Linked DNA regions of Homo sapiens: regions 1, 2 and 4 are each linked to region 3. The links come from fine-mapping of genetic effects on gene expression. A gene starts in region 3. Each other region holds a variant in brackets. All regions are shown on one strand. Distances are from middle to middle.

Evidence for each region.
Region 1: its variant is fine-mapped to the expression of L1TD1 in tibial nerve (GTEx, PIP 0.97).
Region 2: its variant is fine-mapped to the expression of L1TD1 in blood mononuclear cells (TOPMed, PIP above 0.99).
Region 4: its variant is fine-mapped to the expression of L1TD1 in whole blood (INTERVAL, PIP above 0.99).

What each region holds. Positions count from the first base shown.
Region 1 is chr1:62,391,733-62,399,871 of GRCh38, forward strand. No RefSeq gene overlaps it. Among named protein-coding and RNA genes, the nearest start is that of USP1, 41 kb to the right of the region's middle. The variant A/G (reference allele first, on the strand shown) is at 3,858.
Region 2 is chr1:62,267,223-62,275,222 of GRCh38, forward strand. KANK4 (KN motif and ankyrin repeat domains 4) reads right to left here. Exons shown (of 10, transcript NM_181712.5): 3 at 5,982-7,865; 4 at 4,256-4,367; 5 at 1,065-1,283. Among named protein-coding and RNA genes, the nearest start is that of KANK4, 48 kb to the right of the region's middle. RefSeq lists an enhancer at 854-1,354. The variant G/A (reference allele first, on the strand shown) is at 3,302.
Region 3 is chr1:62,191,346-62,199,484 of GRCh38, forward strand. It overlaps L1TD1 (LINE1 type transposase domain containing 1), which reads left to right and starts at 3,504. Exons shown (of 4, transcript NM_019079.5): 1 at 3,504-3,576; 2 at 5,090-5,183. RefSeq lists enhancers at 2,647-3,503, 3,504-4,359.
Region 4 is chr1:62,218,086-62,226,224 of GRCh38, forward strand. No RefSeq gene overlaps it. Among named protein-coding and RNA genes, the nearest start is that of L1TD1, 27 kb to the left of the region's middle. The variant C/G (reference allele first, on the strand shown) is at 4,752.

The DNA.
Region 1 (8,139 bases), 200 kb after region 3:
ACAGATAATTCTGCTAAGATGACTGCTACCCTAGTGGCTATGGCAGTGGTTATGAATACAGACTCAGGAGTACTGTACTCAGAAAGCAACCTCTCCCAGTGTGTTCTTCCTGAGTGTAGAAGATCACTTTGTCTTGTATTTGGCCAAGTGCAGTTTCCTTCTCCTCCCTCTAAACCTCTAAATGCAGGAGTGCTTAAATCTCAGTCTTTGGGCATCTCCTCTACCTATACTCATTTTCAAGGTGAACTCATCTAGGCCCATAGCTCAAATGCCATCCACATACAATGACTCCCAAATTCTATCTCCAACTTTATCCTCTCCCCCAGCTCCAGACTCTATCTCTATCTTAACCTCTCCACTTGGGCATCTGATAGGACTCTGACGTGTCACATGATTTAAGACATCTGGAATAGAAATCTTGCTTTCCGCTCCTCACCTGCTCTTCTCCCAGTCTTTCTCAACCCTGTAAAAGACACCACCCTTCACCCAGCTGGCTCAAGTCGAAAGTCTACAAGTCAGCCCTAACTCCTCTCCTTCTTTTAAATCCAATTTCAATGCAAGTCCTATCAATTCTGCTCCTCAACATTTATCCTTATTCAGCCTCTTCTCCCCAGATCTGCTTGCTGCTTTTGTGTGTGTGTTGATAACTTTCATGAATCATATATTTTATTTTCCCAGTATTATAGACTAGATGTTTGTGGCCCCCCAAAATTCATACGTTGAAACCTAATTCCCAAGGTTTTGGTATGAGGTGATGGGCCTTTGGGAGGTGATTAAGTCATGAGGGTGGAATCCTCATGAATAGGATTGTGCCTTTTATTTTTAAAAGAAGGCTCCAGAGAACTCCCTTACCCTTCCACCATTTGAGGACACAGTGAAAAGATGACCATTTATGAACCATGAAGCAAGGTCTCAGCAGACACCAAATCTGCCGGCATCTTGATCTTAGACTTTCCAGCCTCCAGAACTATGAGAAATAAATTTCTTTTGTTTATAAGCCCCCAGTCTATGCTAGTTTGTTATACCTGCCCAAATGCACCTAGATACATTTTGTCTTTCAGTATGTAGGTTATAATTTTCCCTTTAAAAACAGTGTCTTCAGGGGTGGGTCCTGAATATCAAACTTTTATTGCTCTCAATTTCAAACCAGTATAAACACCTAATCCTAGTCCTGCTTTGACCACAAGCATCTTATTTAATTTTTTATTTATAGACAGGATCTCACTCTGTCACCCAGGCTGGAGTGGGCTGATCTGGAGGAGAATCAGACAGAGGCTGTGAGATATTCAGGCCAGTTTTTGACACATTGAGCATAAGGTGCTTTGGTATAAACAGAGATTTTTTAGTCGGAAATTGGTGGTGCAAGATTAGAGTTTTAGAAAATGGTTGCTGCTCAAGGTACACATTGAGCAAGATCATAGCTTACTGTAGCCCCGAACTCCAGGGCTAAAGTGATCCTCCCACCTCAGCTGTCCAGCTACTTTTAAATTTTTTTTGTAGAGATGAGGTCTCTCTGTGTTGCTTATGCTGGTCGTGAACTCCTGGCCTCAAGTGATCCTCCCACCTCAGCCTTCCAGAGCACCAGGATTACAGGTGTGAGCCACTGTGCCCAGCCTGACCACAAGCCTCTTGAAGGACTTGGTCTCTTCTCACACCAACAGCTTCTTCCCAAGCCACTCACTATTCCATCCTCTATAATCTCCTCCACCCAAAATTGACACTGCTCTTGACAAGGCAATGACTTTCTAATTGCCAAATCCAAAGGCTTATCTCTAGACCTAATCATACTCGACTCTCGGATCACGGGAAATTGCTGATCCTTCCTTCTGCTCTGGATCCTGCGGCCCCTGCATCCTGCATTGCTCCAACCCCTCTGGCTCAAAGGTGTCAGACTTATTTGATTACTCTTCTTGCAGACTTTACCCTTGATCTTCCTCTCTTCTCATTCTTCACCACTGGTTCTTAAACTTATTTTTTCAAGGACACCTTTGAAAACATGCTAGAAGCTATGAGAGAGTCATCCCTAAAATAAATAAGTAAAAATGCCTATATTCATGGACACATAATACCCTAAGTAATTTCAGGAGTTTCTTCACACCCTCAAGCCAAGTTAGACCCTCTGCTCTACTTTCTCAGCTGGGGGGGTGCCAACCACCCCCAGGGCTTCCATCATCACCCATATGTTGATGGCTTTCAAATGTGTACCTTGAGCAGCAACCATTTGCCAAAACTCTAATCTTGCACCCCCAATTTCCAACTAAAAAATCTGTTTATACCAAAGCACCTTATGCTCAATGTGTCAAAAACTGGCCTGAATATCTCACAGCCTCTGTCTGATTCTCCTCCAGATCGGCCCATTGCATAATGACTCACCATTCGCCCCATTACCAAGGAGGAATTGGCTCTTCTTCTCCCTCCTCTTGCTGCTTCCCAGGCTCCAGCCTTTCTCATCTCTTGCCTGGATTACTGGAGGAGCCTTCTGCTTGATCTGCCTGTCTCCCTCATTGCCCTCTTCAAACCCACCTGCTACACTGCAGCGAAATTTATCTTCAGCCTTTCCCTGCATCAAACCCCATTGCTCACAGCAGTACTTCCCCAAGCGTGTTTCAAAGAATACAAAGTCTCCATGATATTATATGAATGGAAAAAGTTTTCATGGTCAATTAAGTTGAAGAAAAGAATGAAAATTAGTTAGGCTTAATTACATCTCAGAGTCTTCAATATGCTAAAACACATTTCGGAGCTCCAACTGGGAGATATGAAATAAAGCCTTTGTCAAACTATGTGGCAACAAAAGAGCCTAGTGTACCTCAGAATACACTTTGGATGCCACTGGTCTATGAGCTGAACTTTAATTTCCTTGTCCATCTCTTTTTCTTTTTGACTTCTAGCTGCTATTTTTGATAGTGTAGACAATGGGAGGAAGGACAGCAGTGGCTTCAGGAAAACTAGCGTTTAAATCTCAGCACAGGACTTCTGGTCAGATTATTTCTCAGGACATGCGCCGTCTAGTGTCCCTGGGCCTCTCGGGAGGCTGAGCTCTGTGGGCTGTGGCACCAGGCGCCCTGGGCCTCTGGCTTTCAGCTGAGTTTGGGCATTGGAAAGCAGTGGTAGCAGAGGTGACGGGAGGGTGTTCATTCCCCACTGCCACCTTCCCTCTGGTGGTTCTGCAGTGCTCCCACACTCTCCCTGATCCCAGCTCTTGTCTGGTAGGGGTGACTTGCCTTCTCTTCCCCTTTAGGCCTGGGGGTGATCATGGCTTCCAGCTGCTACTAACCCCTGGGGGCTCCGTCATCGCTTGTTAGCCCCCTTAATTCTGCCCACACCTTTGTAAATAGTCCATTCCTTAAACTCTTTTCAATTAAACCTTCTGAGTACGCCATCCTGTCTTCCCTGATGGAGACAGGACTTTAGTCTCCTTACAAAATGGGGATGGTAACATCTACCTCATGAGACAGCTGAGAATGTTCTGTGAAAGTACCTGAGGTGTGCTGCACCCAGTACAATGCCTGACCCCCAGCAGTGCCCACTGAATAAGAGATGACTACCCCAGTCCTGCCAGTTGTCCAAGTAGTGACCTACTCAAGAGTCTCTCTGCTCCCTTGCCAGTGATCCAGGCTGAGGTGGGCAGAGGGAAATTATGCCAGGCCCCAGTCTGAAGAGACCAAGCAGCCATCAGGACGCAGGGTCCTGTCAGCAGTCACAGAACAGGACTGACCTGCAGGTCCTACTCCAGGGCCCCGGAACAGAGGATCCTAACAGGGATTGGAACAGCCAAGGGTCAGGGTGTTTCTGTGCTCAGCATTCCTCTTGGAAGAAAGCAGCCTCTGTGCTGGGCCCAGATGGTCTGGCCTTCC[A/G]CACTGGCCAATTGTTTCGCGAGGAGGAAATCCTTCCAGCTTCCAGTCTACTCCTTGTCCCCCACTGAAGTGATCAAGTGGCCTGGAAGAGGGGGTGCTATTTGGAAAGGGAGGACACTTGAATTAGGTTTCCGGTACATTTCCCAACAGGCATACAATGGGGAAATTTTAAAAGGGGTTAATAAGCCAGGTGCAGTGGCTAGTGCCTGTAATTCCAGCTACTTGGGAGGCTGAGGCAGAAAGATCACTTGAGGCCAGGAGTTCAAGACCAACCTGAGTAACAGCAAGACCTTGTCTCTAAAACAATTTTTTTTAATAGTAAAAAAAAAGGCCAGGCGCAGTGGTTCATGCCTGTAATCCCAGTATTTTGGGAGGCCAAGGTGGGCAGATCACTTGAAGCCAGGAGTTTGAGACCAGCCTGGCCAACATGGCAAAACCTCATCTCTATTAAAAATATAAAAATTAGCTGGGCGTGGTGGTTCATGCCTGTAGTCCCAGCTTCTTGGGTGACTGAGGCACAAGAATTGCTTGAATTTGGGAGGCGGAAGTTGTAGTGAGCTGAGATTGTGCCACTGCACTCCAGCCTGGGCGGCAGAGCAAGACTGTGTCTTAAATAAATAAATAAAATAGTAATAAAAAAATAAAAGGGGCTGGGCACAGTGGCTCATGCCTGTAATCCCAGCACTTTGGGAGGCCGAGGCGGGTGGATCATCTGAGGTTAGGAGGTCGAGAGCAGCCTGGCCAACATGGTGAAACCCCGTCTGTACTAAAAATACAAAAATTAGCCAGGCATGGTGATGGGCGCCTGCAATCTCAGCTACTTGGGAGGCTGAGGCAGAAGAATCACTTGAACCTGGGAGGTGGAGGTTGCAGTGAGCTGAGATCGCGCCACTGCACTCCAACCTGGGTGACAGAGTGAGACTCCGTCTCCAAATAAATAAATAAATAAAAATAAAAGAGCATTAACAGAAATGATATGTTAGAGAACACTTAGTGAATCTGCAGGCAGGCAAATTTATTTATATTGAGCCCTCATATAGGAAATTAATGTATTGGGTGTGTTGAACAAAGCATACCTGACTTATGGCACGTAATCAAAATGCAGTTTTATTTTGTTTTCTACTGTCTCTTTAAATCAATTCAGTGGGTAAAATTTTCACAATCTCTCGAAAATCAGGGAGTTTTTCTACACTCTTAAAGCCAGGAATAGACAACCTAATTCAGAAACAAAACAATACAGTATGGTATCCAACACCTCAAACTTCACTCTAGGGCAAGTCTTCTTTGCCTTCTCCCCACCCAGGTGCTCTCTGGTACAAAATTGTCTCCCAGGACCAGGATCCCTCCTGTAGCAGAGGTGCCAGCTGAAGGAAGTCTGAGCTCTCCCATCACCCTGGGGCCTCAGCGATTTAAAATGTAAAATTTCTCCCAGCATCAGGGAGTCCCCACGTTGATCTGCCACAGAGAGACGTGACTAGTCAAACGCCAAATGAGAATGCAGAAAAAGAAGCCAAGTCAGGAGGGAGGCGGGCCTCTGCCTGGAAAGGGAGCAGGGAAGGTTTCATGGCTCTCTTCCCCGGGGCTCTTTGCCTTCCCATCCCAAAGTGGGGCCACAGGCCCTGGGGACCCTGAGGCTATCCCAGCACTGCCAAGGATCTAGCTCTGGTAGCACAGGATGCCCTGATGTCAAGCAATTCACGAGTAGGATAGGATAGTGGGATTCTTAACTCTCCACAAGCCATAGTAAATGCAAGCTTGGGGGCCAGGAGGAAGGAGGTAAGAAGGAGAAGGTGTCACACGCCAGGGCCAAATTAAATATCTCTATCCCCCAAGACACTGCAGGACTCTCCATGACGTGCTAGCTAAACAGGCTGAGTTGCAGCTCTAGAAATTTATTTTGAGAACCGCAGATCTGTGGAGATGGTGAAATTGCAAGTCTAAACAAATCTCTTTGTCAAGTGAGGGCACAGGTGGGTGTGGATGACATCCAGACACCTGGCTTGGAGCTATTTGGGAGGACAGGCTATGAAGGAAACCCTTGGCCAAGGACCCTAAATATTTTTCTAACTTAGAATGAGAAGGTAGTGGTCATAGCCCCTCCATTTGATCCCAACCCCTTCAACCTCCCCCAACCAGACCCACTACCTGGAGCCCCTGGTGTGGTAGGCAGAAAAATGGCCCCTCAAAGATGTTCATGTCTTAATCTACTGAACTGGAGAATGTTATCCCACATGGCAAAAGGGACTTGGCAGATGTGATTAAACCAAGGATGTTGAGATGGGGAGATTATCCAGTGGGTGCCCCCAGTGTCATCACAAGGGTCCTTATACGAGAGGGGTGGGAGTGTCAGAGTCACAGAAGGGACTGACAGCAGAAGCAGAGTCAGAGGGAGGCCAGCGTTGGCTTTGAAGATGAAAGGGGCCATCACCAAGGAATGGACAGCCTCTAGAAGCTGAGAAGACAAAGAAATGACTTCTCCCCTCAGAGCCTCCAGGCAAGTACAGCCCTGCTGCCTCCCTGACTGTAAGGTGGTGAACAGATTTCAGACTTCTTCGGAACTATAAAATCATTAACTGTGTTGTAAGACACAAAGTTAGTACCTGTTACAGCAGCCATAGGAAACTAACACATGTGGTAAGAGAACGTTGATATGGTTCTTTCAGGTTCCTAAAGGCCCAGTTAAAAATAATCCTGATGAGAAGACATCACGCCACCCACCCACCCACCCCACTCCTGTCCATTTTACTGTGGGAGAGCCCACTTCCAAAAGCTGGATGTTTCAGGGTTGTCCATATCCAGAACTTAGTCACAATCACGGACACCACAGGGTGTCCCAGTGTGAAGTATAGCCGTCCCACTTCATGGGCTGACGCCCCATCCTGGAGTGGATGCATTTTGATATAAGGATGAGTTCCCTTTTAGAAAGAAAGCACCAATCGAGACTTTTTTCACCAATTATGACATTAGTTAAAGGATCATGGTGACTCATAGGGTGGTGGGAAGAATGAATGGCCAGCCTACATAATTTCTCGATGAGAAACATCAGCAAGTGCTAAATGGTATTCGAGTATTCTTTTTTTTTTTTTTTTTTTTTGAGACACAGTCTTGCTCTGTCGCCCAGGCTGGAGTGCAGTGGTGTGATCTTGGCTCACTGCAACCTCCACCTCCTGGGTTCAAGCGATTCTCCTGCCTCAGCCTCCTGAGTAGCTGGGATTACAGGTGTGCACCACCACGCCCAGCTAATTTTTGTATTTTTAGCAGAGAGGGGGTTTCACTATGTTTGTCAGGCTGGTCTTGAACTCCTGACATCAGGTGATCCACCCACCTCGGCCTCCCAAAGTGCTGGGATTACAGGCGTGAGCCACTGCGCCCCGCCTAGTATTTGAGTGTTCTTGAGGAAGACATCAGCAACTGGAAATACTGGGGATAAAAACACATGCCAGCCTAAGATCAATACTCAATGTTAACATTATTAGAACCATGTAAATATTATTCCCAGATGAGCCATATAGTGCGTTGTGATTTTTTATATGATACAATTTTTTGTTTTCTGTCAATAATTGCCTTTGTTTTGTTCCATTTCTTAGGTAACCATCACTATTTAATTTTCAAACTCTGGAACTAAGTATAAATCTCCTAAGATGTTTAAACACATGAGGCAATCTGAAGTGTTCTTTTTTTTTTTTTCTTGGTTACTCCTGAATCCCTCCATCATCCTGGTCCTCTCTGGACCGCTCCTCTTTAGGGTGATTGACAGCAATACCTCTTATGCTGGATTAGCTTTGCTTCTGGACTGAGAGTGCTACATGGGCTGAGAGGTATCCTAGAGAAAATTGCCTTGGAGTATGTGCCAGTTCTGATTTTTTCCTGAAGAGACTTTATGGCCTCTATTCATGCAGGGAACATTCTCAATCACATTGTATTTAGCCTCATCCTGGACCAACTCTCACATTTTTTAACTGACAATGGGTCAAGTAGACTTGGCCGAAGATGGCTGGCAGGGTCTCAAACTTTTTAAGTGAACACAGACTTGAAAAGAAGAAGCTGTTAATTGTGCCCTGAGGGTAGACCTGGCTCCCACTGTACAAGGGGGCTCAAGCACATACCTGGTTCATCACCCAAAGTGGACCCAAAGTGGGCAAGGATAGTGAGGCTTTCACCCAGGAAGGGGAGCCACATTATCACCTGAGTCCCTAAGATCAGATAAATAAATGAAGGTTATTTAAAATGGTGACAAGATGGGGCTGGGTGCGGTGGCTCATGCCTGTAATCAAAGCACTTT
Region 2 (8,000 bases), 76 kb after region 3:
CCAATCCATACCAGAAACTTTCTTCAGGTTATTCTTCCATGAAGGACACCGTAAGTACTAACAGAGTCAGTAATATGAGACTCGTTGAAGCTGGGTGTCCACAGTGACAAGCACTCTTCCTGTGTTGATCTGAAGGCAGGCTCAGCACCAAGAGGCCTCAGGTGAGGCTTAAGGGCACTGCTGGGCTCAAACTCCTAACCTCAAGGGATCCTCCCATCTCAGCCTCCCAAACTGCTGGGATTACAGCTATAAGCTGTGGTGCCTGGCTGCTCCCATCACTTTAAAAGACACATCACCAGCCAGGCACGGTAGCTCATGCCTATAATCCCAGCACTTTGGGAGGCTGAGGCGGGTGGATCACAAGGTCAGGTGTTCAAGATCAGCCTGGCCAACATAGTGAAACCTCGTCTCTACTAAAAAATACAAAAAAATAGCTGAGGATGGTGGTGAGCACCTGTAGTCCCAGCTACTCAGGAGACTGAGGCAGGAGACTCACTTGAACCCAAGAGGCAGAGGTTGCAGTGAGCCGAGATCGTGCCACTTCACTCCAGCCCGGGTGACAGTGCAAGACTCCGTCTCAAAAAAAAAAAAAAAGACACATCACTTTAAAAGCCAGCATGGTCAACAGGACAGGCAGAAAAGCTTATGGGTAACAATGAGAAGGACTGGGGCCAGGGTCCCTATTCTGCTAGCTGCGTCCCCACACTTCCCTAAGTCTCTGTTTCCACAACTGTAGAGTGGGGAGGTCACAATAACTTCTGTCCTGCAGGACTGTTGGAAGTTGTGTATATAGGATAATACTTGTAAAGTCCTTCACAGTTTCAGCACTAGGTAAATGTTGACTTTACAGGTAGATATCGGCTGTGACAGTACATTCCACGAAAGCAGGAGCCATATATCTACTTTATTCAACCAGTGCACAGTGTGGGCATGAAACAGAGACTTAAACAACACTGGCAAATGGATGGGTACATGAATGAACAAATGATCGCATGAACGGGTAGATATATGCCCTTGACCTTTTTCAGAGGAACAAGTGCCCGCGTTTGTGTCCATTTGCTCACCTCTCGGCCTTGGAGTGGGGGACTTCTTCCCCAGGCCCACTTTCCTGGGCAGCATGGCAGGTGCCCTCAGGGATGCCCTGCCCAGCCTCGCAGGTGAGATGGGCATCTTTGACATGCTTGTGATCTGGGCCGTCACACTTCTTCTCTGCCTCGCTGTCAGACAAGTCCTCTGGGGTGCTGTCCTCACCGCTGGTCTCCTCACTTGAGGTGGTCTCATACCTGGGGTAGAAAACAAAGGTCACTCGTCCTGTCTTTCCTGCCCAGTGCCCATGTCAACACCAGTGAGAGCTGGGTGGGCCTCGGGTAACACTCCGCAGCTTGCTAATCTCCTCCCCCACTCTCTACACCTGCCGGCAGGGTGACAGGCTCCCAGGAATCTTGGTGTCAGAAAGACATGCAGTAAAGGGCCCTGGCTCTGGTGCAGAGAGGCTATTTGGGGAGACTCAATTAACTGTGCTTATTGTCAAAATAATTAACTGTGCTCATTGCAGCAAACCCACGAGCAGCCTGTCCCCTCACTGGCTGATGCGTTCGGTGATCTAGACAGGCCATCCAGCGTTCTCATGAAAGCATTTGCTTGTGCAATCCTAACGTTAGGTCCGGAGAGGGGCCCAACTCTAGCCAAACATCCCCACCTCCACCCTGAATTCACCAAGTTGCCTGCAAATCTTCACATCTCTGGATGAGACCGAGACCTCCCTTCAGACTGCTCCAGCCCAGCTTGCACTTGGCAAGGCATGAACTCCTCCACACCTACATCCAGTGCTCTGTGGGATACCCCAGCACAGCACCTGCCTGTCTTTGCTGCAGCCTGTTTGAACTATTGCTTGGAGCAGCAAAAAGGAGAGCACAGGCCACTTGACTCGTGGCCCTCTTTCCTGGTAGTGACGCTTATGCTCAATTATAAGTGACTCTGTTGAGTTGGCAGACCAGAGGCCATGGAGGAAAGTCCTGGAAGATTTATTGACTCCTCTACTGATATTCAACAGGAGATCCCTAATGGAGAATGCTGGTGGTAAGATGATTTCAGGTTCTTGGGCCATTGGACACAGCCACAGAGACTGGTGGCCATGGCCTCCATTGAACCCCCTAAGGACCCTTCTCTGAATGGTGGCCTCTACATAAGCCCCTGTGCTCAATGGATTTGTAAACTGAGTCTGCTCCCTGCTATGCTTGCATTCTGTCTCACTTAAACCCCAGACATTTCTTCCTCTATTATGTATGGAACAGCCTTTCATGTTTGTGATTAAGAGAGTGGAGGGCATATTACATTTACCAAACAGTGCTCATCTTGGAACTGCTTCCATAAAAACTTTGCCTGGAAGTTCACTTATTCATTCAACAGGAATTTATTGAGCACCTACTATATGCCAGGCGCAGTTCTAAATCCTATACCAAAGTCCCTGCCCTAGTGGAGCTTATATTCTAGAAGGTAGAGTCAGAAAATGAACATGTAAACAAATATTATATTTAGGTAGTGATAAAAACAATGAATAAAATTTAAAAAAAAAGAGCCATGGGATAGAAGGATAAGAGGAGTGGCTACTTTAATTAGAGCAGAAGTTCCTAACCTTAGTGGTACATTAGAATCATTTGAGGGTGTTTAGAATTCCCAGTATGTGGACTGCACAAAGACTAATTAAACCAGAGTGTTCAGGGAAAGGATTCAGACACTGGGATGTTTTAAAAGCTCCCCTGGTGTTTCCAGCGTGCAACCAAGGCTGAGAATCACTGTACTGGAGTAACAAATGCTGAGGAATGTCCAGGAGAGGAGGCCTTTAGCAGGGAAACAGCAAGTGCCAGGGCCCTGAGATGGGCCTGACCTCAGCCTGTTGGAGGGAGGGAAGGAACGGCAGTGGCAGGGGCTAAGGCTGGGCAGAGCCATGATTTGGTTCTTCCACATTTGGATGCAGAGTGGGGACCATTGGGGGCGTTTCAGCTGGGGAGAGACGTGACCTATACTAGGCTTTGAGATTAGGCTGATTCTCCTTTTCTGTACATGAACTGTGAAAGCACATGATCCCGTGTCAGATGTTAGTGGAAGTGGGAACAGCAACCCTCCTGTGACACCCAGTTCATCATTTTTTTTCTTTGCTTTGCTTTTTTTTTTTTTAAGACTGAGTCTCGCTCTGTCACCCAGGATGGAATGCAGTGGCACAATCTCGGCGGCTCACTGCAACCTCTGCCTCCTGGATTCAAGCGATTCTCCTGCCTCAGCCTCCTGAGTAGCTGGGACT[G/A]CAGGTGCATGTCCCCACACCCAACTAATTTTGTATTTTTAGTAGAGATGGGGTTTCACCATGTTGGCCAGGCTGATCTTGAAATCCTGGCCTCAGGTGATCTGTCCACCTGAGCCTCCCAAAGCGCTGGGATTACAGGCATGAGCCACAGCGACTGGCCCCAGTTCATCATTTCTGATGTTTCCCCTTGTTGGCGTCTAATGTCTTCCCTTCTGGTGTGACTCAAATTAGCAGGGATTCTGAGCTCTCTGGGCAGCCTTCAGGGTTTGGGCTTCCACAGCATCCTGTGCTTCCTCACCTAACAAAACTTATCTCAGCACATCAGCATTTCATCTTTATTTCTGTTATCTGTGAGCTAAAGGCAGAGACCTTTATTTATTTGACTTTTTAATCTCCACGACCGAGCACACTGTTGGCATTTAATAAATGTTTGTTGAATGACTGATTTAGAAAATATTCTAAATCAAACATTCAATTCTATAGAATATATGAGGTTTTGTTCATGTTCTAAGCCAATAGTCTAGTTGTTTTTCTTCATCCCCAAACACTTGGGTTTGGCTTGCAGGAAGTTAAAGAAAGAAAAAAATTAAATGGATGAAATTTGAAGTTCCACGAATTAACAGAATTTGTACTAGTTTCAGTTTTATGGTTCAGGTTAAATGTCTTCCTCTAAGGGCCCGTATACCCCCAAAACTCCCAGAAGCCACCTGGAGTCCTGGCCCTGGGGAAGACCAAAGCCAAGACATATTAAAAGCAGAGGTTCCAACAGACCACCACAGCTGGCAAGAAGCCAAACGCATGCAAACCCGAGATGGAGTTTTAAAGGGCCATTGAAATTAATTCCCTTGAAGAGGAATGAAAACCAGATGCCTCCCCCTAGGAAAAGAGAGTGCAAAGGACAATAGCAGGAGAGGTAGCAAGAAAGGCAGTCTGAGCTTCACAAGCGATGCTTACCCACCGTTAACCCCAACAAACTGAAGGTTCTTTTTGGTCCCATTACCTCCTGCACGGAAGCCATAGTCTTTCTTTTTCATTATGGATTTAAGGCTGGTCGATGGGGAGATCTCTAGGCAGACACAACATCACAGGTTAGAATGATCTTGGGGATGCATGGGAATGTAGCAAAACCAGGATATTGCTTTGAGGGGACAAGGGTTGCAGGTGTGTGGAGAGGTAAGGAGGGACAGGGAACCAGATCATGTAAATCAATGTTTTGGGGACCTCTTGGAGGAGCCTTGCTTTCTGCTCAATGTTGGGAGAACTGTCTCTGTTAACAATGCCCCTCTAAGTGTGGATGAAGAACCATGTGGCGTAGGTGCCATTGTTGTCCCTGTCTTACAGCTGGGAAATCTGAGGCCCAGACTTGCTCAGTGAATGGGAGTGTAGGAGCAGAACGTAGGCCTCTGGACTCATGGTCTAGCACCCACTTCTGCTCAAGGGCACCTCAGTGGTCCTTCCTGGCTCACAAGTGCATACTGACACTAGGGTTGTGGGGGTGGTGATGACACCGTGCTCACAGTAGATACACGAGCAAGGACACAGATCTTGCAATGTGCTCAACAGGACAGGAGGCGGCTCCCAACGGGGAAGGCTAGAACTAGCACTGAAACAATGAGAAAGCAGTCAAATTGTGATTTGTGGCAGGAAGCAGACTCGCATGCTGCCCTGCAAAGCAAAACGTGGTTCCACTTTACCCGACAGTGAAGAGGGTTTGATCTGTTACAACAGGAAGTGCTGCTCAGCCGAAGGGCCCATTTCCATATGTGAGCAGCACTTAATCTCCTGCCCCTGTACACACACACATGCACGTACACACACACATGCACGCAGAGAAAATATTCAGTGAACTATACCAGATATCAATATAATGCTCCTCCAAAACCAGGCCAGAGAAAACCTCTACTATGCAAGAACCAGAGAGGAACACAGGAATGCAAAAGCCCAGGAAGAGGTCTGGAGTCCACGCAGCAGGGCCATTCTTGGCCCCAGACACTGCCTTTGCACAATGCAAATGAGAACAGCCCCCTCTGGGTGGATGTGGTGCTGCAGCGCAAGGCTTGGCAAATGGAGTGTGGGCTGGCTTTCAACTCTCATTTGCCCTCCCTGGCTGGCATCTTTGTGCCCTGTGCTATCCATACAGCTGTAGGCAGTGGGCCCATAGTCAGACCCAACCTTAGAGCAAAGGCAAGAGTAGAGGTCCCGAGCCTCCACTGTCACACACATCAGTTTTTATTCCACTGGGTTCCTGGAAGTACTAAAATCTTTTTTTCTTTTTTTTTTTTTTTGAGATGGAGTCTTGCTCTGTCACCCAGGCTGGAGTGCAGTGGTATGATCTCGGCTCACTGCAACCTCCGCCTCCTGGGTTCAAGTGATTCTCCTGCCTCAGCCTCCCAAGTAGCTGGGATTACAGGCTCCTGCCACCATGCCCGGCTAATTTTTGTATTTTTAGTAGAGATGGGTTTTCGCCATGTTGACCAGGCTGGTCTTGAACTCCTGATCTCAGGAGATCTTCCCACCTCCGCCTCCCAAAGTGCTGGGATTACAGGCCTGAGCCACTGCTCCCAGCTGCTAAAATCTTTTTAAAAACATGTTAATATAATTGAAAACCTTGTTCCCTCTGCCTTATCATGTGAAGGAGAAATGGCTCCCTGTCTCAGGCCCCTATATTGATGGTATTTACCCACTGGCGGGGAGGAGGAGGAGGCCGGTGGCTCCTTGGGTGGGTGAGCCTGGGCCGAGTAGGCCGACAGCAGCAGGTTGAGGGAGCTCAGCAGCTGGCTCTGGATGCTGCTGAGCTTGGAGGCTGGCTGCTTGATGGCGCTGGCCAGCTCCGGGTACCCATGCTCCAGGCAGTTCCACTGCTCCTGCAGGAGCTCCTGGATCTTCTTCACATACTGCCCAATAGTGGCATCCGTTGGCGAGCTTGGTGGCCTTCCCGGGTGCTCCTTCCCTGGGAGATTGGAACTGGTCTCCTCCCTCCCTGCTGGGGGAGTCTTTCTGTCGCTGCCCCACAGAAAGCCTCCTGCTCCCCTGGTTCCTCCCTGAGGGCCTCCTTCCTGTTCAGTGCCTGCTTCTTCAATCCTGAGTTCAGTGGAGAGGAAGCTATGTACAGAGGAGGTAAGGACCTGCTCGGGTCCCTGTGGCAGTGACAGCTGGGGCAGAAGCACACGTTCTGCTGGGCTCTGATTCCCTTGTTTATGACCATCTGGCCCCCATAGGAGGCCATTCTCCTCTCCTCGGTGCCCCCAGCTTTCAGACTCCATGCTGCCTAGAAGGTTGACTTCAATGCCCTTATCACACGACTCCCTGGTCAAGAGTCCATGGACAGGGTCAGTGTTCACCATCACGTCCGTCTGGCCCTGAGTGTCTTTGGCGTTCTCTTGGTGAAACTGTCCTTCCAGTTGGGCTACAGTGAACTCCAGCTCTCGAATTCTTTGCTCCCTAGCTTTGATTTCCTCTTCCTGCTGCTGGAGAGCAGTTCTGACCTGTGCCAGTTCCTCGGTTCTTCCAGACAACTCTCCCTCCAGGGCCGAGACCTGCTGTTTCAGGCTGGAGATGCTGCCTGGATCCACCCTGGCAAGGCCCAGGCTTTCCTCAGTTACCCTGATGCCAATGCTTCTCATGTCCACCTCTACAGGTGGCGGGGGTGGAATCTCGCTGATGTTGAGCTCGATTTCTTCCAGGAGGAGCTCATTCTCAGGGATGGGTGATGGCAGAGGTGGCGGGCTTGGCGTAGGGGAGCCAGGGGTGAACAACACCTCTGCTTCTCTGGCATTGTGTTCATCTTCCTTGTCCTCTAGAACTACAAGCACATTCTGGAATGAGAAAGGAGGGCCTGGGAGAGGGAGGTGATTTGGAACCTTCACCACACCCTCTGGAGGCTCAGCTCCCTCCTGGACCAGCTCTGGAATCCGAGTTGATGCTCGTGGGCTGGAGCTGTGGAAACCTGCCAATCCTTCTGCAGGTTCAAAGGTGCCATCACAGACACTGCCTTCACCCTGAAGGGGAGGGAGGGCAGGAGGGGCAGGGGGCCCCAGGCTCAGGCCTGGCTCCTCAGAAGCCCTGCTGTGCAGCAGCGTGGCAGGCATGCTGGATGCTCTCAAGAGCTGGGGCCGTCCACTCCCAAAAGTGAGCTCGGCATCCTCTGGCTCAGCAGCTTCCAACTGTCTGGTGGCCTCTGCCAACAGAGCCTTCCTGTGGTAGCTCACCTCACTCCTGCTTGTTGAGGCCTGGGGGGCATTACCAAGCGGTGGTGACTGGTTTTGCTCCTGTGTCCCAAGTGATGCCTCCCTTGGCACCACGGGAGACCAGTTTTGGAGGGGCGGGGCTGCAGGGGGGCGAGCCCCACTGTCAGGAAGGCTGAAGTTTCGGGGCAGAGTGCTAAATTTGGCCTGCTTGGCCCTTCTGTGGATAGGAATTCTTTTGATAGTGTTTCCCTTCTCGATGTCATCCACATACTTGAGGAAGTCCAGGTCTAAATGAAAGCCATATGGGGTCTCCACAGAATAAGGGTGGCTCTTCGGAGGGTCTTTCTCTTCATCCCCCTGAGAGGACTGGTCTTTGGCTGGGAGACATAAGACAAGTTAAAAAAAAAAAGCACAAATTTAATTAAGCATTACAGGGCGATGAGGCCTAATATCTCTGATTTTAACTTAACGCTGTCACTTGAGACTTCTTCTAAATGTTCTAGCCTCGAAAT
Region 3 (8,139 bases):
TCGGCTTCCTGAGTAGCTGGGACTACAGGGGCCAGCCACCAAGCCTGGCTAATTTTTTTATATTTTTAGTAGAGACGGGGTTTCACCGTGTTAACCAGGATGTTCTCGATCTTCTGAGCTCGTGATCTGCCCGCCTCCGCCTCCCAAAGTGCTGGGATTACAGGCGTGAGCCACCGCACCCCGCCCATAATGTTTAACCTTGCCTTTTACTTAAAAGAATTCCGGGAACTGGCTTTAGGAAATCTAAATATTAAACTAAGGTTGTGGAGTGTCCCACCTCAGGAAGAAATGCTGAACAATTGATTTACAGCCTTGTTGCTGTTCGCCAGACCACCAGGTGGGTGATCCATTACTCAATAAAGCCATCAAAACCAGATAAGGCTGACCCGCATACTCTACCCCTCATGTGCTTTGCCCAGCCCAACCTGCATACTCTACCCCTGATTGTCTAATAAAGCAGAGTTAGTCAGGTAGTCCTCTCCGTTATGTCTGTGCATAAGCTCTAACAAGCCTTGTATGGGAACACTCCTTCAGCCTCATGTCAATTTCTATTGCACTGAGAGCCCAAGAACACGTGATCTTAAGTAACAGAAGGCTTTAACCTTTAAAAAATCTAATCACAGTAATCTTATTACACTGAAATTAACAGTTATTCTTTTTCTTTTTCGAGACGGAGTCTCGCTCTGTCGCCCACGCCGGAGTGCAGTGTCATGATCTCGGCTCACTGCAAGCCCCACCTCCCGGGATCACGCCATTCTCCTGCCTCAGCCTCCGGAGTAGCTGGGACTACAGGCGCCGGCCACCACGCCCGGCTAATTTTTTTGTATTTTTTAGTAGAGACGGGGTTTCACCGTTTTAGCCAGGATGGTCTCGATCTCCTGACCTCGTGATCCGCCCCGCCTCGGCCTCCCAAAGTGCTGGGATTACAGGCGTGAGCCACCGCGCCCAGCCCAACAGTTATTCTTAATATCATCAAATATCCAGTCAGTGTTCAAATTTTCGTTTTTTTTGTTTGTTTGAGACAGGGTCTTGCTCTGTCACCCAGGCTGGAGTGCAGTGGCACGATCTCAGCTCACTGCAACCTCCGTTTCCCAGGTTCAAGCGATTCGCCTGCCTCAACCTCCTGAGTAGCTGGGATTACAGGCACACACCACAACGCCTGGCTAATATTTGTACTTTTATAAGAGATGGGGTTTCACCATATTGGCCAGGCTTACCTCAGGTCTTAAACTCCTGACCTCAGGTGATCCACCTGCCTTGGACTCCCAAAGTGCTGGGATTACAGGCTTGAGCCACCTTGCCCAGTTTTTTTTTTTTTTTTTTTTAGACAAGGTCTTGCTCTGTCACCCAGGCTGGAGTGTAGTGGTGTGATTGTAACTGCCCAATGGGTTCACCTTGCCCACTGCCTACACAGAGCCCATTTATCAAGACAGGGGAATTGCAATAGAGAAAGAGTAATTCACACAGAGTGGGCTGTGTGGGAGACCAGAGTTTTATTACTCAAATCAATCTCCCCAAGCATTCAGGGATCAGAGTTTTTAAGGACAACTTGGTGGGAGGGGGGAAGCCAGTGAGCTGGGAGTGCTGATTGGTCAGATCAGAGATGAAATCATAGGGAGTCAAAGCTGTCTTCTTGCGCTGAATCAATTCCTGGGTGGGGGCCACCAAGATCATATCAGCCAGTTTATTGATCTGGGTGGTACCAGCTGATCCGTCAAGTGCAGGATCTGCAAAATATCTGTGGAATATCTCCCTGGTCTTAGGTTTTGCAGTAGTGGTCTTATCCCCAGAAGCCATTTGGGGAGAGTCAGAGTCTTGTAGCCTCCAGCTGCATGACTCCTAAACCATAATTTCTAATCCTGTGGCTAATTTGTTAGTACTGCAAAGGCAGTCTAAATCCCCAGGGTTTGTTTCGGGAAAGGGCTGTTATCATCTTTGTTTTAAACTATGAACAAGTGATCCTCCCACCTCAGCCTCCCAAAGTGCTGGGATTTTAGGCAGTAAGAAGAAATAAGGGATTAAAAGCAAAAGACCGAATTCTCTTTGTTTATTCATATGCTGTGTATTGACTGAACTACCAGATATTGAGGCTTCTTTGCTTATTAGCTGCATGACTTTGGGCAAGTCAAGTTCCACCTGAGCCTTGCAAGTCAGGCCTGGGGAGTCCAACCACCCAGAACCTTTGAGTCTCTGTTAGAGAGCAAGACCCTCTCTTAAGAAACAAAAATAAAACAAAAAAAGAGTATTGGGATATGGGGAGTTTGGCTCCTGTAGAAAGGGTAGTCTGGGAGGCCTGTTAGAGGAGTTAACATTGGACCTGAGACCTGAGGATGAACAGAAGCCATCCTGAAAGAACTGGGAAAATAAAGAGGTGGCCAGGCGTGGTGGCGCACGCCTGTAATCCCATCACTTTGGGAAGCTGAGGTGGGCGGATCACCAGGTCAGAAGTTCAAGACCAGCCTGACCAACATGGTGAAACCCCCCTCTACTAAAAATACAAAAACTAGCCAGGCGTGGTGGCATGGGCCTGTAATCTCAGCTACTCAGGAGGCTGAGGCAGGAGAAATCGCTTGAATCCAGGAGGCAGAGGTTGCAGTGAGCCGAGATTGCGCCACTGCACTCCAGCCTGGGTGACATAAGAAAACTCTGTCTCAAAAAGAAAAAAAAAAAATACAAAAATTTTCCGGGAGTGGTGGCGTGCTCCTGTAATCCCAGCTACTTGGGAGGCTAAGGCAGGAGAATTGCTTGAACCCAGGAGGCCGGGGTTGCAGTGAGCCAAGATCATGCCACTGCACTCCAGCTGTGGCAACAGAGACTGTCTCAAAAAAAAAAAAAAAGAAAGAAAGAAAGAAAGAAAAAGAAAAAAATAACTCGCAGAGGAAACAGCCAGTGCAAGGGCCCTGAGGCAGGTAGTTCCGTGTTTTTTGAGGAACAGAAAGAGAGTGTTTCTGTTGTAAGAGTAGTGCTAAGACAATGTTGAAGGGGCAGTCCGGATAGAATGAGAAGGTAGAAATTTAACCGAAACAGGAAGCCACTGAACAGTATTGGAGGGGGAGAAGGATTACAGAGGGGTCGTGGGAGAGGCCAGGGAGCAGTTGGAGGTGATTTCAGTGATCCAGGTGAGAGACAACGGGGGCTTGGACTGGGCTGGAGCTGTGGAGTTGGAGAGACGCCGGCAAATTCAAGGACTTAGGAATGGATTAACTGCGAGGGTTGAAGAAAAGGAATGAGGTGACCTTGGGGTTCAGGCCTGGGTGATGAGGCGCTTTAGTGGTGCCTTTATTCAGATTTGAGTCTGGAGTCGGGTCTGAGGGGTGGGGCTCGTTCAAGCGGAGGCACGGTGGAGACAGAGGGAATTGGACTCAGTCGGGGGGCAGCAATGGAAGTCAGCAATTGCTTAGGGCGGAATGCGATTTCCGGGGAGGAGGCGCGGGTATGTAGACAGAGGGGGTTGGGACACACCAGGAGGGGAGGAGCCAGCCCCAGAGATCGGGAATCCTCTCAGTCCTTAGTTACAAGGCTCCATCCTCACTTTGTTCGCTCCTCAGTCGTCCAGGCGGATTCCTTTTTCGCCAGGTAAGGCTGGCCCGGGTGCATGGGGCCCGGCGTGCCCTGGGTAAGGCTGGCCCAGGCGCGTGGGGTCCGGGGCGCGCCGGGTAAGGCTGGGCCAGGCGCGTGGGGTCCGGGGTGCCCCGGGTAAGGCTGGTCCAGGGGCGTGGGGTCCGGGGTGCCCCGGGTAAGGCTGGTCTAGGCGCGTGGGGTCCGCAGCGCCCCAAGTAAGGCTGGTCCAGGAGCGTGAGGTCCAGGGTGCCCCGGATAAGGCTGGTCCAGGCGCGAAGGGCGCGGGGTGCCCCGGGTAAGGCTGGCCCAGGTACGTGAGGCCCGAGGTGCCCCAGGCAAGGCTGATCCGGGTGCGTGCGTGGGGCCCGGGTAGGGGCAGGCAGTTGGCCCCCTCACTTGACTCCCTGCTCTTTCCCTTACTGTCCGTGGCGCAATGAGAAAAAAACTCTCCTAAGACTTATCTATCCCCAAATTGGAAACATGAAAGTAGTTCTGTGAAGAAAAAATAAAGTCAAGAAAATGAGGTGGTGCTTGACAAGTCCTAGCTTTAGAAAAAGGATGGAGGGGCCGGGAGCAGTGGCTCACGCCTGTAATCCCAGCACTTTGGGAAGCCGAGGCGGGCGGATCACCTGAGGTCGGAGTTCGAGACCATCCTGACCAACATGGAGAAACCTCGTCTCTACTAAAAATACAAAATTAGCCAGGCGTGGTGGCGCATGCCTGTAATCCTAGCTACTCAGGAGGCTGAGGCAGGAGAATCGCTTGAACCCGAGAGGCAGAGGTTGCACTGAGACGAGATCGCGCCATTGCGCTCCAGACTGGGCAACAGGGGCGAAACTGTCTCAAATAAAAAAAGATGGAGGGCCGGGCGTGTTATTTTCCAGCACTTTGGGAGGCCGAGGCGGGGGCGGATCACGAGGTCAGGAGATCGAGACCATCCTGGCCAACTTGGGAAACCCCGTCTCTACCAAAAATACAAAATTAGCCGGGTGTGTTGGCTCGCGCCTGTAGTCCCAGCTACTAGGGAGGCCGAGGCAGGAGAATCGCTTGAACCGGGGAGGCGGAGGTTGCAGTGAGCCGAGATCGGGCCACTACACTCCAGCCTGGGCGGCAGAGCGAAACTCCGTCTCAAAAAAAAAAAAAAGTGTTTAATTATGTGACTGGAAAAATTGATTTGGAAGTAATAACTTTTGCATTTTCTTCAATTTCCTCCGATTGTTAGGCAAATCGAATTCTTGTTCAAATTGCAAAAGGAAAGCGTGCCTTCCATAATAATAGACCCCAACTCTCACAAAGAAGAAACCATTCTCTCCGGCCCCTCCCTGGCCTCCTCAGATCCACCTCTGGGTCCTCCCATTCCCTGCAGCCCTCTCCCGACTTACACCCCAGACTCTGCTAATTGTGTGTGCCTTTTTAAGCAAACACATGCATAGATAAGTGCTTTTTTTTCCCAGTCTTCAATATAAGGTGATTTTCTACATTAAATAAACCTTAAACTTTGGTGTTATGAACTTGACTTGAATTCTAGGCACCAAGGCACAGCTTAGAGTAGACCCGAGTCCTGCTCTGCGGAGTTCGTCTTCCCAGCGAAGGTACAGAGGCGGATGAACTGCTGAGACTTGGTAAGTAGTTTAGTGGATTAGGGGTAGGATTAGTGGCGGGTAAGTGTGCGGGTGGGGTTGGGGTGGGGTATTTCATTTTTTGAGACGGAGTTTCGCTCTTGTCGCCCAGGCTGGAGTGCAATGGTGCCATCTCCGCTCACTGCAACCTACGCCTCCTGGGTTCAAGCGATTCTACTCCCTCAGCCTCCCAAGTAGCTGGGATTACAGGCGCCTGCCATTATACCCGGCTAATTTTTGTATTTTTAGTAGAGACGGGGTTTTGCCATTCGGCCAGGGTGGTCTCGAGCTCCTGACCTCAGGTGATCCTTCCACCTCCATCTCCTAAAGTGATGGGATTACAGGCGTGAGTCACTGCGCCTGGACTGGGGAGGGGTATTTTAGAGTGAAACAAGGGAAATGACCTTGGGTCTGATAAAGAAATGAGCCCTACTTATAATCTAGTGTGGGTCAGGACCCTTTTGCAGTCTGGTGCTATTAGCAGAACCCACAGTTCGTCATCGCTAGAAACCACATTTTGTTTCACATAACAGTTGTTGCAGGTTTTGCATTCTCACTACTTCAAGATTAAAAGGTAGGGCCAGGTGTGGTGGCTCACACCTGTAATCCCAGCACTTTGGGAGGTTGAGGAGGCCAGATCACTTAAGGTCAGCAGTTCGAGACCAGTCTGGCCAACATGGCGAAACCCCATCTCTACTAAAAAGTACCAAAATTAGCTGGGCATGGTGGCACGCTCCTGTAGTCCCAGCTACGTGGGAGGCTGAGGCAGGAGAATCGCTTGAACCTGGGAGGTGGAGGTTGCAGTGAGCCGAGATCCTGCCATTTCACTCCAGCCTGGGCAAGAGTGAGACGCCCTCTCAAAAAAAATAAATTATATATATATATATATATATATATATATATATATAGTTTAGTCCTGCTACTCAATCTTGTTTAGTAGTAGGTTAAGAAGCTCATATATTCCAAATTTTTTATTATCTAAAAAAGTTTTTTAGAGATGGTTTTGCTATGTTGCACAGGCTGGTCTCAAATTCCTGGCCTCAAGTGCTCCTGCTGCCCCGAAAGGTGCTGGGATTACAGGCTTGAGCCACCGCACCCAGCCCAGCACTTTGGGAGGCCGAGGTGGGCGGATCACCTGAGGTCTGGAGCTGGAGACCAGCCTGGCCAACATGGTGAAGCCCCATCCCTAAAAATACAAAAATTAGCTGGGTGCAGTGGTGCACGCTTGTAGTCCCAGCTACTCGGGAGGCTGAGGCAGGAGAATCACTTGAACCTGGGAAGCGGGGGTTGCAGTGAGCTGAGATTGTGCCACCTGCACTTCAGCCTGGGCGACAGTGAGACTCTGTCTCAAAAACAGAAGAAAACAAAACAAAACAAAACAAAACCCTGTAAATTACTTGAATGCCCACTGCTGAGGGAATTACTTATTGAACCAAAATATGTTCAAAATATGGCATGTCACACATAGAAGAGTGAGGTGTGCATATATAACTGGAAGATTACAAATGGCCTATTGAAAAAAAGAAAATAGTGTTAAAAGTATAAAGCTATTAAAAAAAAGTAAATGTCCCCATACCCAAGGAGAGAGACGTACTAACTAGAAGTCGAAGTTGGCATTCTCCTTTATTGTCCTCCCATGCACCCATAAAAACCAGGCACTTTATCTTGGTATGGTAGCATGCCTGTAATACCAGCTCCTCAGGAGACTGAGGTGAGAGGATCACTTGGTCCCTGGAGTTTGTGACCAGCGAACAGTGATCACACCACTGCTTGCCACGCTGGGCGAGAGTGAGATCTCAAAAAAAAAAGCAAAAACACAAAAGTCACCTGTACGTTGTGAGAGATACCACACCAAACTTTGGGTGGCCTCAGAGGTCAGATAATAGAGACTGAGGTGAGGGACTAGTAATTGTTCTTATTTAAAAAAAAAAAAAAGAAGAAAAGAGAAGTCCATAATCCCCCCAGCAAATTCAGAAAAACACACACACCGACCCCCCGCCGCCGCCCCACCCCGCCGATAAGAACAGGCTGCCAGTGTTGAAAAGGTAATACACCACAAAGGAAATGCAAGCAGATAAACATATGAAAAGATGGCAGTCACAAGCCAAGGCAATGCAAATCAACAAGCTTTTTTCCATCCCTAAAATTAAAGGAAGTTTATCCGCCCTCCCAACCCCCAGTCCCTTGAGGGAAGTGCTAAACATTTCTTGCCCTTTCCAACCGGTGCTCTCCTGTATTGTATACTTTTAAAGTAACCTCCTTAAAATACAAAGCAGAACTTGGGAGTACACTGGTGAAAATCTCCGGTCTCCCTAATCACTTTTTTTTTTTTGGCAGGGTCTTGCTCTGTCACCCAGGCTGGAATGCAGTGATGCAATCATAGCTTAGAGTAACCTTGAACTCCTGGGCTCAAATAATCTGACCGCCTCAGCCTCCCAAGTAGCTGGGACTGCAGGCAGAAGCCAGGACGTCTGGTCCCTGAGCCCTTTTGATGGCTACCATCCAACCCTGAGACAAAATTTGCTAAACTTGTACCAGCCTCTGCTTTCTTCTTGATCAGGGATTTTGAACCCAGAGTGCCTGGGTAGTGTCTGGCTAGAATTCAGAGTATCTGATATCTTGGATGTGAAAAAGGTCACATATATTTATTGTCATTAAACGCTAATCATAATTTAGCATTTAGCATTTGAGGCTGGGAGCAGTGGCTCATGTTTGTAATCTCAGCACTTTGGGAGGCTGAGGCAGGTGGATCACCTGAGGTCAGGAGTTTGAAACCAGCCTGGCCAACATGGTGAAACCCCGTCTCTACTAAAAATACAAAAATTAGCCGGGCATGGTGGCGTGTGCCTGTTGTCCCAGCAACTCAGGAGGCTGAGGCGGGAGAATCGCTTGAACCCAGGAGGCAGAGTTTGCAGTGAGCCAAGATTGTGCCACTGCACTCCAGCCTAATCCACAGAGT
Region 4 (8,139 bases), 27 kb after region 3:
TGGCTTATTTCACTCAGTGTGACGTCCTCGAGGTTCAGCCATGTTGTAGCATGTGAAAGAATCTTCTTTTAAAAAGGCTGCATAATATTCCTTTGTATGTTTATACCACATCTTCATGTACTCACCTTTAGATGGACGTTTTTGTGGTTTTCACCTCTTGGATATTTTGAATAATGCTGTAATGAACATGGATGTGTAAATATCTTTTTGAATTCTTGCCCCAAAATGGAATTGCTGGATCATATGGTTTTGTTTTGTTTGTTTATTTTTTGAGACAGAATTTCACTCTTGTTGCCCAGACTGGAGTGCAATGGCATGATCTCAGCTGACTGCAACCTCCGCCTCCCAGGTTCAAGCAATTCTCCTGCCTCAGCCTCCTGAGTAGCTGGGATTACAGGTGTGCGCCACCACGCCCAGCTAATTTTTTTGTATTTTTAGTAGAGACGGGGTTTCACCATGTTGGTCAGGCTGGTCTTGAACTCCTGACCTCAGGCGATCCACCTGCCTCAGCCTCCCAAAGTGCTGGGATTATAGGCATGAACCACCCTGTCCAGACCAGATCATATAGTAATTCCACTTTTAATTTTTTTTTTTTAAACAGGGTATTGTTTTGTCACCAAGGCTGCTATGTAGTAGCATGATCACAGCTCACTGCAGCCTTGGCCTCCTGGGCTCAAGTGATCCTCCCATCTCAGCTTCCCAAGGTACTGGGATTTCAGACATGAGTCACTGCATCCAGCCTATTTTTAGTTTTTTGAGGAACCTCCTTACGGTTTTTTACAGCAGCCACACCATTTTACATCCCCATCTACTACCAGATTTGTAAAGAAATAGAAACATCCTAGGGACTTAGAAGCTCCCAGCCCACGTGTCCTTGTCTTTTTTTTTTTTTTTTTTTCTTGAGATAGAGTCTGGCTCTGTCACCCAGGCTAGAGTGCAATGGCAAAATCTTGGCTGACTGCAACTTCCGCCTCCCAGGTTCAAGGGATTCTTCTGCCCCAGCCTCCCCAGTAACTGGGACTACAGGCGCACGCCATACTGCCTGGCTAACTTTTGTATTTTTAGTAGAGATGGGATTTCACCATGTTGGCCAGGCTGGTCTCGAACTCCTGACCTCAAGTGATCCACCTGCCTTGGCCTCCCAAAGTGCTAGGATTACAGGCATGGGCCACTCATTACACCCGGCCATGTCCCAGGCAGCATAGGAAGAGAGTTAGAGGGTACCTGTAGATCACCAAATTCTTGCAACCACCTCGCCTGGCCTGAAAGGAGACTTCTTAAGGGAGGTGATAACTGAATCAAGTCCTGAAGGATCCTAGGACTTAGCTCAACAAGGGCAGGAAAAAGGGCTTCCAGATAGAAAGAATAGCCTGCCGGGCGTGGTGGCTCACACCCGTAATCCCAGCACTTTGGGAGGCTGAGGTGAGCGGATGACGAAGTCAGGAGTTAAAGACCTGCATGACCAACATGGTAAAACCCCATCTCTACTAAAAATACAAAAATTAGTCGGGCATGGTGGCGAGCGCCTGTAGTCCCAGCTACCTGGCAGGCTGAGGCAGGAGAACTGCTTGAACCCAGGAGGCAGAAGTTGCAGTGAGCTGAGATCACACCCCTGCACTCCAGCCTGGGCGACAGAGTGAGACTCTGTCTCAAAAAAAAAAAAAAAAAGAGAAAGAATAGCCTGAAAAAACCTAGAGGAGAGAGGAGGACTTGTTTTTTGAGATGGAGTTTCACTCTTTCACCCAGGCTGAAGTGGCACGATCTTGGCTCACTGCAACCTACGCACTCCCCGCCTCCCCTTGGGTTCAAGCAATTCTCCTGCCTCAGCCTCCTGAGTAGCTGGGATTACAGGCATGCGCCACTACACCTGGTTAATTTTTGTATTTTTAGTAGAGAGGGGGTTTCATTATGTTGGCCAGGCTGGTCTCAAACTCTTGACCTCAGGGGATCCATCTGCCTCAGCCTTCCAAAATGCTAGGATTACAGGCGTGAGCCACCGTGCCCGGCTGGAGAGAGGACTTGACTCATGCAGAGAATTATTTCTCCTTTAGTATGGCTGGGGCTTAGAGATATTTAAAAATCCATATTTTTTACTTCTCTATTATTAGCTTTTAAATGACAGTATGCAGACATTTAAGTTTTCTGTATGGTAGTATAAAAACAGGGCAGCAAAACTCCAGGCTGTTAGGGATTGTGACATCTATCTCTCCTTTCACTGCAACAATGGAGGATGTGAACTCAATACCGGTGGCCCAAATATTTTTATGCCAAGAAAGACTTTCCTTGACTTGATAGAGTTTATGGTCTTAGTGGGAAAACCAGACATTAAAGAATGTTAAGGCTTCTGAGTTATATGAAAGGGACAATACTGTGTTCTCTGAACACCTGAGAAAGAGGACTGAGGAGCCTCACACTTCAGATGAGACATTGAAGAAGTCTAGAGATGTTATTATACAACATCCTGACCCAAGTCTATAAACAAATAGGGATATTTCAATTATTTGCTTAACTTGCATAAGAATATGAAAAGTAGGCCGGGCATGGTGGCTTGCGCGCATAGTCCCAGCACTTTGGGAGGCCGATCACCTGAGGTCGGGAGTTTAAGACAAGCCTGACTAACATGGAGAAAGCCTGTCTCTACTAAAAATACAAAATTAGCCGGGTGTGGTGGTGCATGCCTATAATCCCAGCTACTTGGGAAGCTGAGGCAGGAGAATCGCTTGAAACCCGGAGGTGGAGGTGGCAGGGAGCCAAGATCGTGCCACTGCACTCCAGCCTGGACGACAGAGTGAGACTCCATCTCAAATAATAATAATAAGCAATTAAAGCTGCTAAAAGTCAATTATTTATTTATTTATGTTTTGAGATAGAGTCTCGCTCTGTTGTCCAGGCTTGAATGCAATGGTGCGATCTCGACTCATTGCAACCTTCACCTCCCGGGTTCAAGCAATTCTTGTGCCTCAGCCTCCCTAGTAGCTGGGATCACAGGTGCTGGATAATTTTTTTTGTATTTTTAGTAGAGATGGGGTTTTGCCATGTTGGCCAAGCAGGTCTCGAACTCCTGACCTCAGGTGATCCGTCCAACTTGGCCTCCCAAAGTGTTGGGATTACAGGTGTGAGCCACTGTGCCCGGCCAATTTTTAAATTAAATCTTTCCTCTAAAATAACCATTGGACCTTGCAGCCATTTTGTTTCTAATCACCATATATACAAATGTAAATTTTTATGAATAAGAATTTCCTTTATTTAGTCCTACCCTCCTTCTCCACCCCACCCTTATGGTAGGACAGGCTAGCAAGACTGGAATTAATAGACCAAAGGGTCTGGTCATTTTATGGCTTGTGCTACATATTATCCATATTACTTTCAAAAACAGAGTTAGTGATTTATACTGTCTCAACTGAGAGAGCTGGCTTTTCACCTCTTCCTGTCAACAAAGGGCATAATTTAAAACACATTTTAATGAAGAAAAAAATGGTACCTTGCGATGCTCAATGTTGACTTCTAGTGTGATTAGAACACCTCTGTTTGTATTACTTCCACCATACTGCACTCATCTAGCTATGCAAATTGGGCTTTTAATTTTGTATCTTTTTTTTTTTTTTTTTTTTGAGGCAGAGTCTTGCTCTGTCGCCCAGGCTGGAGTGCAGTGGCATGATCTCGGCTCACTGCAAGCTCCACCTCCTGGGTTCATGCCATTCTCCTGCCTCAGCCTCCCCAGCAGCTGGGACTACAGGCGCCTGCCACCACGCCCGGCTAATTTTTTTTTGTATTTTTAGTAGAGATGGGGTTTCACGGTGTTAGCCAGGATGGTCTTGATCTCTTGACCTCGTGATCTGCCTGCCTTGGCCTCCCAAAGTGCTGGGATTACAGGTGTGAGCCACCACACCCGGCCTTTTTTTTTTGAGAAGGAGTTTCACTCTTGTCCCCCAGGCTGGTGTGCAATGGCACAATCTTGGCTCACTGCAACCTCTGCCTCCTGGGTTCAAATGATTCTCCTGCCTCAGCCTCTTGAGTAGCTAGGATTACAGGCATGCACCACCACACCTGGCTAATTTTTATATTTTTAGTAGAGATGGGTTTCACCATGTTGGCCAGGCTGGTCTCAAACTCCTGGCCTTAAGTGATCTGCCCACCTTGGCCTCCCAAAGTGCTAGGATTACAGGCATGAGCCACGGCGCATGGCCGAATTTTGTATCCTTAAATGTGCTTTATGCTGGGCGTGGGGGCTCACGCTTATAATCCCAGCACTTTGGGAGGCTGCAGCAGGAGGATTGCTTGAGCTCCGGAGTTTAAGACCAGCCTAGGCAATATAGTGAGACCCTGTCTCCACAATACATTACAAAATCTGGCCAGGTGTGGTGATGTGCGCCTGTAGTCCTAGCTACTCGAGAGGCTGAGGTAGGAGGATTGTATGAGCCCAGGAGGTCGAGGCTGCAGTGAGCTGTGATCACACCACTCCACTCCAGTCTGGGTGATGAAGTACACCCTGTCTCAAAAACATAAAAATAAGGCCAGGCGTGGTGGCTTACGCCTGTAATCCCAACACTTTGGGAGACGGAGGCAGGCAGATCACCTTATGTTGGGAGTTCGAGATCCGCCTGGCTAACATGGTGAAACCCCATCTCTACTAAATATACAAAATTAGCTGGGCATGGTGACGCACACTTGTTATCCCAGCTACTCAGGCTGAGGCAGGAGAATCGCTTGAATCTGGGAGGCGGAGGTTGCAGTGAGCCGGGATCATGCCA[C/G]TGCACTCCAGCCTGGGCAACAGAGTGAGACTCTGACTCCAAAAAAAATAAAAGTTAAAAAAATGTGGTTTATCTTATTTTTTTACAGGGCTAAAGAACTGGGTCTATTTCACCCACCATATCTTTTATTCCCTCTAATTTCATGTTTTCAACTTTTTCTTTAATTGGCTTTAATTCATTTTTGATTCATTTGTATGAAGTGTCCTTTATTATATCTGCTTGGGGTTTATTTTTTTTTTCCTTTTTTTTTTTTTGGAGACAGAGTCTCACTCTGTCGCCCAGGCTGGAGTACAGTTGCATGATCTTGGCTCACTGCAACCTCTGCCTCCCAGGTTCAAGCAATTCTCCTGCCTCAGCCTCCTGAGTAGCTGGGATTACAGGCGCCCACCACCATGCCCAGCTAATTTTTTTTTTGTATTTTTAGTAGAGACAGGGGTTCACCATGTTGGTCAGGCTGGTCTCAAGCTCCTGACCTCAGGCAGTCCACTCGCCTCTGCCTCCCAAAGTGCTGGGATTACAGGCATGAGCCACTGTGCCCGGCCTCATTTATTTTTAAAAGTTACAAAAATGGAATTAAATGAGAAGACAGACATCAGACAAGATGATGATAGTTAAAATTTAAGGGGAAAAATAAGACTCCAAGAAAAAGATACAAACCAGCCCTTTTTATCTTTAATTAAATAGAAAATACAAACTAATTCTTTTAACTTTTATTTATTTATTTATTTATTTATTTTGAGACAGGGTCTGGCTCTGTCACCCAGGCTGGAGTGCAGTGGCACGATCTTGGCTCACAACTACCTCCGCCTCCCCAGGCTTAAGCAATCCTCCCACCTCAGCCTCCCAAGTAGCTGAAACTACAGGTGTGCGCCATCACCCCCAGGTAATTTTTGTACTTGTTGTAGAGATGAGGTTTTGTCATGTTGCCCAGGCTGGTCTCGAACTCCTGGGTTCAAGGGATTCACTTGCCTTGGCCTCCCAAAGTGCTAGGATTACGGGCATGAGCCACTGCGCCCGGCTACTTTTATTTACTTTTTGTTAGAGGTAAAAAGAGAATAAAGGTGGCCAGGCACGGTGGCTCACGCCTGTAATCCCAGCACTCTGGGAGGCCAACGTTGGGAGATTACTTGACCGCAGGAGTTTGAGACTTGCCTGGGCAACATAGTGAGACTCTGTCTCTATTTAGAAGAATCAATATAAAAGAGTAAGATAAAGAACTACCCGTAAATATGTATTAAGAGATTGTTATGGACTGAATGTTTGTGTCCCCTCGAAATTCATATGCTGTAGCCCTAACCTCCAATGTGATGGTATTTGAAGGTGGGGCCTTTGAGAAGTACTTAGGTTTAGATCAGGCCATGATAGTGGACGCCTTGCAGTGGATTAGTTTCCTTATAAGAGGAGGGACAGAGAGCTCTGTCTTTATGAGCACACACCAAAGAAAGGCCATGTGACCATACAGTGAGATGTCAGCTGTCTGCAAGCCAAGAAGACGGCCCCACCAGAACCTCACCATGTTGGCACCCTGATTTCAGACTTCCAGCCTCCAGAATGGTGAGAAAATAACAGCCTGTTGTTTAAGCCACCCAGTCTATGATACATTCTTAAAGCAGCCTGAGGTGACTAAGAGAGAAGTTTACTAGGAATGGGTATAGAAATTTTATTTAAATGTATTTTCTGGGGTTTTTTTTTGTTTTTTTTTTTTTTTTGAGACAGAGCCTCGCTCTGTCACCCAGGCTGGAGTGCAGTGGTGCAATCTCGGCTCACTGCAACCTCCGCCTCCCGGGTTCAAGCGATTCTCCTGCCTCAGCTTCCCGAGTAGCTGGGATTATAGGCACCTGCCACCATGCCCAGCTAATTTTTGTATTTTTGGTAGAGACGGGGTTTCACCACGCTGGCCAGGGTGGTCTCAAACTCCTGACCTCAGGCGATTCGCCCGCCTCGGCCTCCCAAAGTGCTGGGATTACAGGCGTGAGCCACCGCGCCCAGCTGTGAAATGTATTTTCTTTTTTTTTTTTTTTGAGACAAAGTCTTGCACTGTCACCCAGGCTGGAGTGCAGTGGCGCGATCTCGGCTCACTGCAACCTCCATCTCCCAGGTTCAAGCAATTCTCCTGCCTCAGCCTCCCAAATAGCTGGGATTACAGGCGCCTGCCACCACACCTGGCTAATTTTTGTATGTATTTTGAGACGGAGTCTCGCTCTGTCACCCAGGCTGGAGTGCAGTGGCGTGATCTTGGCTCACTGCAACCTCTGCCTCCCGGGTTCAAGCGATTCTCCTGCCTCAGCGTCCTGAGTAGCTGGAACTATAGATGCACCCCACCACGCCCAGCTAATTTTTTGTATTTTTAGTAGAGTCAGGGTTTCACCGTGTTAGCCATGATGGATTTTTGTATTTTTAGTAGAGAGAGGGTTTCACCACATTGGACAGGCTGATCTCGAACTCGTGACCTCAAGTGATCTGCCCACCTCGGCCTCCCAAACTGCTGGGATTACAGGCGTGAGACACCACGCCTGGCCAAAAGGTATTTTCGTTGTTTTTTTTTTTTTTTGGTTTTTTGAGACAAGGTCTCACTCTGTCACCAAGGCTGGAGTGTAGTGGTGTAATCTCGGCTCACTGCAATCTCTGCCTCTTGGGTTCAAGCGATTCTCGGGCCTCAGCCTCCCTAGTAGCTGGAATTACAGGCGCATCCCATCATGCCAGGCTAATTTTTGTATTTTTAGTAAAGATGAGGTTTCGCCATGTTGACCATGCTGGTCTTGAACTCCTGACCTCAAGTGATCCGCCCACCTTGGTCTCCCAAAGTGCTGAGATTACAGGTGTGAGCCATCACTCCCAGACTAAATGTATTTTCAACATTAATAAAGGTGATTATATATATAGTTTCTCTTTTGACTTAATAATTACATTACAAAATTTCTTTCTTTTTTTTTGAGACGGAGTCTCACTCGGTCCTCCAGGCTGGAGTCCAGTGATGCGATCTTAGCTCATTGCAACCTCTGTCTCGGTTCGAGTGATTCTCCTGCCTCAGCCTCTCAAGTAGCTAGGATTACAGACACCCGCTACCACACTCAGCTAAGTTTTTTTTTTTTTTTTTTTTTAATGTAGAGACAGGGTTTCGCTATGTTGGCCAGACTGGTCTCAAACTCCTGACCTCAAGTGATCTGCCCGCCTTGGCCTCCCAAAGTGCCAGATTACAGGCGTGAGCCACTGCGTGTGGCCCAAAATTTCTTAATATAGCACCATCTTTGATTCTTCAATTTCTGGAATAAACTCCACTTGATCTTGTGTATTATTCTTTTTTTTTTTTTTTTTTGAGATAGAGTTTCACTCTTGTTGCCCAGGCTAGCGTGCAATGGCACAATCTCTGCTCACTGCAACCTCTGCC